Linked DNA regions of Homo sapiens. The protein of the gene in region 3 interacts with the protein of the main gene of each other region in a pairwise test. Each region holds a gene or a part of one and is shown on either strand. Other genes may lie near its edges. The genes, in order: AOAH, DSCAM and DLG2.

What was found.
Region 1: the proteins of DLG2 (region 3) and AOAH interact in binary tests that used the Homo sapiens proteins (3 or more experiments, as listed by UniProt).
Region 2: the proteins of DLG2 (region 3) and DSCAM interact in binary tests that used the Homo sapiens proteins (3 or more experiments, as listed by UniProt).

The regions. Positions count from the first base shown.
Region 1 is NC_000007.14:36,722,892-36,726,644, forward strand, and holds the start of AOAH (acyloxyacyl hydrolase isoform 1 preproprotein), read right to left. Parts: upstream 1,604-3,753; 5' UTR 1,258-1,603; coding exon 1,131-1,257; intron 1-1,130.
Region 2 is NC_000021.9:40,077,451-40,081,203, forward strand, and holds part of DSCAM (cell adhesion molecule DSCAM isoform CHD2-42 precursor), read right to left. Parts: intron 2,891-3,753; coding exon 2,702-2,890; intron 1,528-2,701; coding exon 1,237-1,527; intron 1-1,236. UniProt on the Homo sapiens protein: Cell adhesion molecule that plays a role in neuronal self-avoidance. Promotes repulsion between specific neuronal processes of either the same cell or the same subtype of cells.
Region 3 is NC_000011.10:83,457,636-83,461,388, reverse strand, and holds part of DLG2 (disks large homolog 2), read left to right. Parts: intron 1-1,464; coding exon 1,465-1,571; 3' UTR 1,572-3,753. UniProt on the Homo sapiens protein: Required for perception of chronic pain through NMDA receptor signaling. Regulates surface expression of NMDA receptors in dorsal horn neurons of the spinal cord.

The DNA.
Region 1 (3,753 bases), on a different chromosome or scaffold from region 3:
CCATTGTACTCCAGCCCAGGTGACAGTGCGATAATCCATCTCAGAAAAAAAAAAAAAAAAAAAAAAAAAAGGACTTTGGAAGTAGAGATGCATCTCCTAACATGTACAATGACCTGAGGCCATGATTTTGAGGAAGTAGGACAAATTCAGATATATTTCCATATTGTCTCCAGAAACAATTCCTAAGTGTCAGAATCTGTGTCCAGATTTTCCATTTGCAGCATGTAGCCATCAGACTTATCCTAGAGTTATTTTCCTGGCTTCTCAAGCTAGGATTGTATTTTGAGGTCTGCTCATTGAACAATTACTTACTACTCAGAGTTCTGAGTCTATGTGGCTCCATGGACTGTACCATCTAAATGCCACCACTATTATGAGAATTCCCATGTTATGAGAGCTACAATGTGAATATCAAAGATCTTACCTTACTTCCTGCTCTCATCCAAAAAAAACAAACAAAAAAAACCTCTTGGAAATAAAACACTTCATTAACAGATGAGCCAAGAAGCCATATCAACGCTCAGCGTCTCCAGGTGATCGCCAAATCTGGATTCTCTGAGAGACGGAAGGAAGCTAAGATGGTTGAGTCCTTACTGTGTGCACATGCCACAGATTTACATGCATGGTCACAATTTCCATGGTATCCCTATGAGATGGGTCTCACTCACTTCAGTTCACCAATAAGGACACAGAAGCATGGAGAGGGTTAAGTACATTGCTCCAGGTTTCCACAGCCAGTAGGAAATGGGAGAGAAGGGTAGGAGGAGGGCAGTGATTCAAACTCAGATGTGTTTATATGAGGTCAAAGCCCATGAAAAGCAGTAAAAATTTCAGACTAAAATAGCCTGAAATAATAGTTACCTATACAAGAAGAAAAAATTCCAATCGCCAATGAGGTGGAAGAGTTTTATGCCCAATTTAAACTAGTATGCTTTTTATTCACATAGATGTATGTAGTGTCAATGTCTACTCTTAGACTCCACATTTCTCTGTGTCAGTGAGGTTACTGGTGCCTTACCTGGAATCTTACAATTCTTGATTTAATAAAATATGTGATTTATTACGCAAGCAAAGTACTGGATCCCATTGTTATGTCTACATAGAAAATACAAAAATATTTATTTGCATACCTACACAGGTGTGCCCATTCGAGAGGCTGGGCCTGGACTGGTCATCGTTGGCTGGAGAGGCCGAGGACTGAAGAGACAGGAGCAAGAATAGAGGCGCCACCGTAAGGATTTTCCAGGGGGACTGCATCTCCGAGCTATGCACCCCAAGTGATCACCCGGCTTTGGAAGCTCCCAACTGAGGGATGCTGGAGCTGAGGCTGCAGAATCAATTGATCTCTCTCTCCTTCTCTTCCTCACTCTCTTTGACACACACACCCCACCCTCTCACATACACACTTTTCAATAAGTGTGAAGTGAATAAAAGCACACATAAACACTCACAGACCCACAGCTTGCTCTTGTTGGACCCTGAGAGAGCCACACACAAAGAGCTGGAGGGAGTCTGTGGTGTGCGGTTCTGCTGAGGTAAAGACTGCAGGATAAAGAAAACCCAAGTTGCACAGTGGCACAACTTCCGTGCTCCCTGGCTCAGTGAAGTTAGTGTGCATAAACCCCGTGAGCCTCGAGGCTTGCCGGAACTGATCTGTTGGGTTGGTTAGGAGGCCCTTCCCCTTTCATTCTTGCAAAACAAAACAAAACGATACTAAAGCCAAAACTGAGAAGAAAAAAGAAAAAAAAAACTAATCCACAAGCACACAACCCTTTAACAATTTGATCAGCAGCACCCACATATTGTAGAAATTCTAATTGGTTACATTCAGAACTTACTTAGTCTTGTTTTCAACAGCTTTATATGGTAAGGTTGTGATCCTTATTTTGTTGTAAAAGGATATTCTGGTCAAATAATATCTTTCCTCTGGAGAAATTGGGTTATTCCTTGAAGGGTCAAGGCCTTTTATTTGGTGTGCAGAAAATAAACAGTACAGAAAATAATGGGCAGTTAGCATGGTGGGATTTTAGACCTAATGAGAAAAAACATGGGTTAGAATTAATCAATTCACAGTTGCTAGGCTGTGCACAATGCATCTTTTTTTTCTCCAGAATTTCGAAGTGCATTTTGTGGATGATTTGTTAAGAGACTGATTTTCTGCTCTGAAGAATAGAACTGAACACTGTCTTTCTGAGGGAAAAAAAAAATCGGAACCAGATCATAGATAAAAGACATATAATCTAAATGTTTCTCTCTAAAATAAGATAAAACAAAATCATATGCCATTCTCAGTCAAGATAAGAGGACAGGGCCAAAGTACCACAGTCTAGGTAAGTGTAGGAGGTCATGAGATTCTGTTTCTCTCTGCTTAGGCTCTGAGGGAGCTTATTACAAATTTTGAAATATTATAGAAGCTATCTAAATTGTTAGCAATTAAAAAAAATAGCATTTGGAGTAGCAGGCAAAGTTTTAGAGTAGCATCCTTTCCAGGATGTAGGAAATACCAGTTTTTATGGTTGGAAGATTTCTTGTGCAGTCATTAGTCTTACAAGCACCGATGGGGCTACAATTCCCAAACCTGCTGCAGAGATAGCACAAGTCAGAGTGTTTCCCTAATTACACTTCCAGCCCAATACTGAGGATATCGTTAGGCGTCCATGGGCCTGTGACTTCCTCTGACTCTAAGGTGCTGCTGCTTCAGTTCTTCACTCTGTGACTAAGGGGAGCTCTGGGGTCACTAGGACCACCACAGGGGTGAGGCCTAGAGAAGTTCCAGAGACTTCCAAGGGAGGCTAAATAAAGGACTGATTGATTAGGAACTCAGATTGTGAAGACAGAAAGGCTCATGCTTACGTCTCATGTCTACTGTTTATTCTGAGTAATATATTAGACCAGTGATGTAACTTTCCCCCCTTCAGTGTCTTGTTTTTGTTGTTGTTGTTGTTGTTTGTTTGTTTTTTGAGACAGGGCCTTGCTTTTTCATCCAGGCTGGAGTGCAGTGGTGTGATCACAGCTCACTGCAGTGTTGACCTCCTGGGTTCAAGTGATCTTCCCACCTCAGCCTCCCAAGTAGCTCATTTCTATTGGGATAATGGTAATATCCGCTCCAATGCGCTGCTGGAAGCACTCGAATACATGATGTATCCAAACAACAAAGCAGCATGGCTGGCAAGAAGTAAGTGCTTAGTGCATCTGTCTATGACTCTAGCAGGAGTGTGATGAAACCTGCACCCCAGACCAGCTTCAAGAGAATTCCAAGACGCCCATGGTAGTTGTAGGCCATCATGTCATACATGGGAAATGGTGAGGACAGGAAAAGGGAGGATTTATTGAATACCTTCCAGCTGTGCTACAGCACTCCAGGAGTGTGTGGTCTAGTTTGTCTAATCCATAAATGGGTGAGGACTCTCCTGAGGGCTTCTGGAAGAGCATTTGACACAGGCTTTGGGCCTCTTGAGGCTCTCCTGGTCTCAATGTATAGCTGCGAGCAGGTCTGGAAACTCTTAGAGTGAGAGGGATTTCTTGGTATGCCGGAAATGCAAGTTTTGTGCCCTTCATCGCATGTATGTGGGCCAGGCAGTGCCATTCACAACCATCCCAGGGATGGTCGGCTCTGAAACTCTCTAGTGTGCTCAGGCTTCGGGGCTGGTCACAGTGGGAGTCGCTGACTTAGCTGTGCAGTATTGAGCAAGCCCCTTCCTGTTTCCAGAGGTGACAGTCCTCAGCTAGAAAAGGGAGGTGAGACTATCTACT
Region 2 (3,753 bases), on a different chromosome or scaffold from region 3:
TCCTGGTGGTCATTTCTGTGGGTCCTTAGGTTCACAGCCACTCTTCTTAGGATGGCATAAACTGTGCTCCAAGGAGCTACCTGCTGGAGCTTTAATAAAGCGGCCTCCCAAATGCACAAAGTAAAGAAAGAATCACTCTCCTAGAGAGCAATGCTGATGCTTTTCATGGGCTGCCTCTGTCTAATTTTACAGCCCTCAGTTATGAGTGACTTCATTGAAAGGCATCCCCTCACAAAGCATCACCCACAGGTAGAGGAGCACTTCCAACGTGGTCTTGGCTTGGCTGTCAATAAAGGGTTTGGGTGTTTCTTGGTTAACTCATTCAACACTGTGGTCTAGCCTGACCAACAGGCAGTGAATAGAAGGCTCTGAGGAGAGTTGCACTGGAGTTCCAACTCATCCTGATGCATTGCTGCCGTTTTTACCTTGCAATTAGAGCACCTAACTCAATCCTTGCTGTTCCCCTAGTGAGAAATGAGCATCAGCCCGCTGCTGCTGGGACTTTCTAAAGTTCCCCTACTAAGTTGCAGTCGAGGACTCGCTCCTTTCAGCTTCACTGGGCTTAGCATTTGTTCAGTTAGCAATAAATGGCCCTTGATACCAGAAAAAATGAGTGAGATTTTAAACCATTTATTTTTGGTTAACTAATGTCAAGAGACACCTCACCTAGTTTTTGGAAAGTAAATGCAAGTGGCAAGTGTGTGTGAGTTTGTGTGTGTGCACGTGTTCATGGATTCCTATTATTATCCTATTTCCATCAGTGGCCCTGCTCCTGCCCAGAGACTAACATAAGCTCCTTTACCATGGAAAATTGTTTTTGCACATGCAGTTTAGGGTGTAATGAGTGCAAAAAAGAAAGTTGTTATGTGGATTGGGATGAGGTGGGGAAAGGGGTGGGAGACAACAAAAGCAATGTTAGCTCATAGACATCAACACAAGCACAGAACCACAGGGTCAAGAGTCCTTCAGCCCTAAGAGAAATCACTCCTGCCCCATGACTCCCCAGTGAGACTCCCTATGGCCCTGAGTCTCTTATTTCTGGACACACAGTGATGGTCATCTGGATATAACGAACTAGGGAGCCCCAGACAGAGTCCATTGAATCCCGAAAGCCTAATGGGCTCCGTGGGCACTGGTCAAACTATGGCAAAGATGATGTTCGATGGGAAAGGGGCAGGGCCCACGTGCACATCCCCCAAGACACAAGCAGGAGAGCCACAAAGCCAGCCAGCTTACTGCCATCGTAGTTCAGCGTAGCGAAGTTGGCCTGCTTCTCCGCGCAGCCCGCACTGTTGCACACCCGCATCTGCAGCTCATACCAGGTGGCTTCCTGCAGGTCATACAGGATGTAGGACTTGGAGAGAGAGGTCCTCTGAGCTGTGGTCCAAACTGTGGTCCCAAAGGGCCTGTACTCTAGTGTGAAGGAGGTGATGGGGCAGCCGCCATCATTCCAGCCAATGAGGTTCAGCCTCACGCGTGTGGTGTTGATGCTGGCAAACAGCTCCTGCTCCTTTGAGAACTGGGGCTCTGGGGGAGAAGGCACATGGAGGTCAGCTCACAGGACACATGGGGAGGCCATCAGCATCTTCACGCATTTCCCTCGGACTGCTTCCTCCAGCGAGGCCAGGAGCTCAGTCCAAGTCTGGCTCACAGGCCACTGGCAACTTGTCCCCTGTTAATAGAGACTTTATGGACCAACAGGCTTTCTCCAACTGTAATGACCTGGGTGTGTGACAGAAAATTGCATGGGTGGAGGTTATTTTGGGGTATCTTAGAGTTCCCTAAAGAACAATAGGATGTTCACATATGGGTTTCCTTCTGTGGTTTGCGGGGCAGTGTGCTGGGCACTTTTTCCATCCTCATGTGATGAACCTGATTCAAGAGAAGACAGAGTTGGATTTGGGAAGCACCAACAGATTTTCCTCCACAACTAAACACTTGGTCTTGGTGCCCAGGGACCTAAAGGATATATTTCTGCATAAATCAATCCCCGATCATTTGACCTCTTACCACTTGTTACCCAAAACTGTGGCACCAGGCACAAATAATACCCTTGCTATCTCATTACTCGCTCTCCTGCCATCTGACCCCACCCCACCTGGTAGGACTCCTATGGGAGGGAAGCCTGCAAAGACATCTCCTCACCTTCTTCCTATGCCCACATAGAGCTGCATCATCCCTCCTTCCTTCTGGAGTTCCTGGGACAAAACCTCTTTCTCTGAATATGATTTCTTTGGGATTCATCTCCTTGAAAGTCCACATTTTAGATTAAAAAAAAAACAAACGCAATTTACCCCATCATTTTCCCTCTGAAAAGCGGTGGCTATGTGGCAATGTGGAAATGATAGGAAGGTGGGAGCAAGGGTGGCTAAGGGAGAAGGGCGCCTCCAAACGGCTGAGAGGGCAAGCGCCACGCTTCATGGCTGCCCAGCCTTGGCACCTCACATTCACACCAACGCCCTTGATTTTCAAACTGACATTCTTCTTTTTAACTGCAAATGAAACAATAAAAGAGAGGACCAGAACACTCTGGAAGGTCCAGCTGTCCCTCTCATTATGCCGTGGCACTGCTGAAGCCATGTGAGGAATGACAAAGTTCAAACACATAAACGTAAAACATGATGGATCTTTTATGATTCCAATCTCCTCTTCTGGCCGGGAAAAGAAAGGATATTAAGAAGCGATGAGAAGGCATACCTACCTTTTCCTAAGGTCTTTGCTTCTATGATTTCACTTATGCGCCCTGGGCCCACTCCATTTTGGGCTGTCAGTGTGAACTTATACCAAGTCCCACATTTGAGATTTTCCAAGCGATAGGAACGTTCGCTGGGGCTGATTGGAAAACTCCCCCACTGCTCACTATTGTCCTCGGAGTACTGCAGTATGTATCCTGCAGAGAATGAGAAAGATTCACATGAGCACTGTGTTTGCTTTCTATGGGAAGTGGACTGATGCTTGCATTTTGTGTGGGTAATAGAACGAGCATTCTCAGAACTGAAGAATCTTCAGAAGGAACATTTTCGCTCTTTCTGATTCCAGGAAATGTAACCCAGCCTGGGAGAAGCACCATGATGTATTGATTAGTGAGTCATTTGGGCCACACCAGACATTATCACTGTGAAGTATTGCTGTTTTCTGCTCATTCTCTTCTAAAAGCCATATTGAGCAGCAGGGAATACTTAAGTTGCCAAATATCTGTCCCTCAGATCATACATGCCTGAATCCTTGAGTGAAGACATAGGCTGAAGCTGTTATTTTTGCAAGACACTCGAATCTCTGGGAAAGGGATACATTATCAATGGGAGTAGAGATTTCTTCAACTGCCTCACTCCTCATGTACTCCTGGTCTCACAGTTCACAGACACTAGGAGAAACAGCTCCAAGTCTTGCAGCCATCCCACTATTCTGACAGTAACCTGGCTTCTCTTTGGTTTGAAAAATTCCTCCAACAATTCATTCCCCCACATGAGCACTACCTCTACTTTTACAACTAGTAAGGATGACTGTCCACTCTAGAGCACTCACTCCATGCCAAGCCCTGTCCTAAGCCCTTTGCTTACAGTATTTCTGCAACCCTATGGAACAGTGACGACTCTCCCACAGAACACGTGGGACACTGAAGTCCAGAGCAGTTAAGCGGTGAGTCCCAAGTGCTGAAAGGAGGATGCAGATCCTGCAGTCAGCCTGAAGCCCATGTTCTTCACCCCTGTGAATGCTGAAATATTCTTCCTGTTAACTCCTTCAGCCCTGTTA
Region 3 (3,753 bases):
TATACTTTCATAGAACACTGAGTAATCAGACTTTGTGAAATTTGCCTTACACCTGGTTCCCGGAGGTTTAAAAACAAGAACTTTCGAGCTGGGCTTATGCCTCTAATCCCAGCACTTTGGGAGGCTGAGGTGGGTGGATCACCTGAGGTCAGGAGTTCGAGACCAGCCTGGCCAACATAGTGAAACCCCCGTCTCTACTAAAAATACAAAAAATTAGCTGGGTGTGGTGGCAGGCACCTGTAATCCCAGCTACTAGGGAGGCTGAGACAGGAGAATCACTTGAACCCAGGAGGTGGAGGTCGCAGTGAGCCGAGATCGTGCTACTGCACTCCAGCCTGGGCAACAAGGGTGAAATTCTGTCTCAAAAAAAAAAAAAAAAAAAAAAAAAACCCAAGAACTTTCTTCCTGGATTACCATATGTGAAGTTAGATGTTTTATTTTTTACCTTATTCAGAATATAGAAAGTGTCAGTGCCTTAGCAGTTTGTAAATATCTTGAATCAGGTAATATTAAGTAATCTTTCTGTCAGTAACCAAGATACGAGCTGTGTTTCATCCTAAAAGAACATCCAGGTAGGAGAAACAAAAGTGTACATTTTGACAGTGGTTTATATTTTGTATACAATACAATAATATATTCTGAGGATTGTTTTTAAATATCTAAATCATCTTTCAGTAGTAATTTATTTTTAAGACCTAGTGTCATATGGATAATACTGATGTGTTTTGGAAATCTTTCTACAAGATAACTTTTGTTCAAATGAGACAATAAAATGTACTTAAATCTACTCCAAGTGACTTAGTGTTTTAGGAGATACACAACTGAGCAGTTTGTTTATATTTCTTCCTGTTTATGTTTCTTATAAATAGTGGACTTATGGTATTCTCAATATGAATAGCTCTGTATGGTAAAAATCTCAAGTTACCAGAGATTTGGGGAATTAATGGGTTTTCCTATTAAGGGCTTTGAGGGTTGGGAGGCTAACTAAACTTCCCTCTAAAATCTTCATTATTTCCTCGGTGTCTACAATATCTGAATTTCTGCTGCTGCCAAAATAAGTAAATATACAGACTGTAAGGCCAGTTTTCTTTTCTAAATAGGGAGCTCTCAGTCTGAAAATTGATCATTGCCCAGCTCAGTGCCTGGCTCAGAGTAGGCACCCATAAAATATTGGTTAAATAGATGAGTGATAAATTGTCCAGTACTACAGACAGACATGTAGAAAGTGCAAAGACTGTGAATCATTTGTTACTGATCCAGGATATCCATTGAAAGCATTTCTTAAAATCATGAATGTAACTTTGCTTATATGAATTTTCTGCTTCTTCTTACTAATGAAAAATGATATGAAGCTTCCTGATGAGTCATCTGCTACTGATTTGAGCCTCCAATGTGTAAGTGATGATTGTTCTTCACCATCCAGGAAATTATTTCTAATTCTGGGTGTGTTTGCTTTTGTTACAGCTATTGTCCAAGGAGATACTTTAGAAGATATATATAACCAATGCAAGCTTGTTATTGAAGAGCAATCTGGGCCTTTCATCTGGATTCCCTCAAAGGAAAAGTTATAAATTAGCTACTGCGCCTCTGACAACGACAGAAGAGCATTTAGAAGAACAAAATATATATAACATACTACTTGGAGGCTTTTATGTTTTTGTTGCATTTATGTTTTTGCAGTCAATGTGAATTCTTACGAATGTACAACACAAACTGTATGAAGCCATGAAGGAAACAGAGGGGCCAAAGGGTGGGACAGAAAAGACATTGCAGTATGAAGGAAGGCTTTGGTTTGCTCAAAGTGCCAGGTGTAGGGATGAACCTCTGACGGGCTTTCTGCCCAAGAGATGAGATGAGAGCCTCCTCACCCCAGCAGATGTCCAGAGCTGATTTAGCTGCAGAGCTCTCTGTGTCTTTTGCTTTAAAGAAAAATTGCCAGCACTCGAACCTCATCAGCCTTCCCATTACCCACATCTGTAATTGGTACACTTTGAATTTTATAACTATGCACATCTTTTGATTTCTTAACAAGCAAATGAAAGAAAGAAGGAAAAAAGAAAGGAATCCCTTTGGAGATGACATACTATCAGGGAAGGATAAGTGTGTAGTTTTTTGACTGGCATCTGCAAAGACAAGAATTTCATAAAATTTGCAAGTGTATGGAGGACTAACCTCACTGACAGGAGGGGATTCCACCTGGGATTAGCTTTATGATTGTTGATTGCCTATTTTGCCATTTATAAACTGAAAGAAGGCACTAAAGATGAGAATAATTTATACAATAAAAATATATTAAATGTATAGAAACAAATTTCTATAGGTTAAAAAAGTTTTGTGAAATATTTTGTAAAGACTAATATTGAAAGACTAAATGTATGCAACATCAGCAGATGATCAAATTCAAGACCTGAAAGTTGCACTCTCCCTTTTGTTGCCAATGATCTGTTAAGAGCATCTGAGTTCCTTTTAAGTCTGACAAAGACTTCTTCCTCACTTACCTCCCTTCCACATTAGTGATACACTCTCATGCAGCACATCCCTTAATGAGTTGCCCTCATGGATATTTTTGGAAGACATTTGGTTAATGCATTTTTTTATGCTGATGGCTTTTCAGAGACAAACTTATGCAAATGATCTAAAGGGAAGTTTTTGCTTTCCTCTAGTTAAATAACCTGAGCCTGCCATGCAAATAGTTGAATAACTTTGTTCCTAGTTACTGACATACAATTCTTAAAGGACCATTTAGCATTTTGGCCAACAATGAGTAATTAGGATTAGTACCTTTTTGTTTTACAGAGTAACTGAGAGTTTTGTAACATCCAGAGATGGTACTAGAGCCAATGAGAGATCTGTTCCTAGATGCACTATTTCTTTGAGGAAGAGAGAGAAGAGAAGTGTCTGGTTGGGGGTGAGGGGGTGCAGACTTTTTTGTTTCTATGTACAGAGCAAAGAGATAGAGTCACAAGGAAAGACAATTAATGACTTTGAGCTCAACCAACTGAACTGCCTTTCTTGGAGCTGCACCTGGACCAAGTTTATTTTTTAACAATTATAATAACGATGATTTAAAAAAAGAAACCTCCCAAAGCCTATAAACTGAACTAGAAGAGTTGGTTTCCCACTTTAGAGTGGATGGCGACATCAGCATTGCTTTTGCCCATGGTGTTTGGGGAGAGACTTTTCAGTGATAATAACCACTCTACTCTGGGTTCTGTGCATGCCCAGACTAAGCCCCATCGCCTTATTTCTGGGGTACATCCAGACCTGGCAGGGATTCTGCCACACTGTGCAGCAAACCAGCATGTAGGCTGGGTAGGAGAGCAAGAGATAGAGCCATCAGAGTGATGGGGCTTCTTCACAGTAAGAACATCGGAGCTTAGAATGAGAGTCTCTTTCCAAAAACAGGCATTGTTCATCTTACGCTAAACATCATTGTCTGCCTGGCTACAGTCACCAAAACAAAACAGAAATGCAAAATTATGCATCTTCCCATAGTCCTGAGGCTTCCTTTGCCAATGGAAGGGCTAGCAATGCATTCTCCCTCTCATGAAAGTTAAATTTCCAGAGACTTCCTTAGATTGCTCAAAATGTTAAAGATATGTCCATGTCTGCAATTCGCCAGTTTCAGGTCAAGGCCTACTTTCATCAATATTGCTCCCAGAAGTTTTCTGACACCAGAATGCCATTCCTGATCCCAGCTCTATTTTTAGGCCACCACGATAACTTCTTTGGTTTCTCAACTGAGCATGCAAC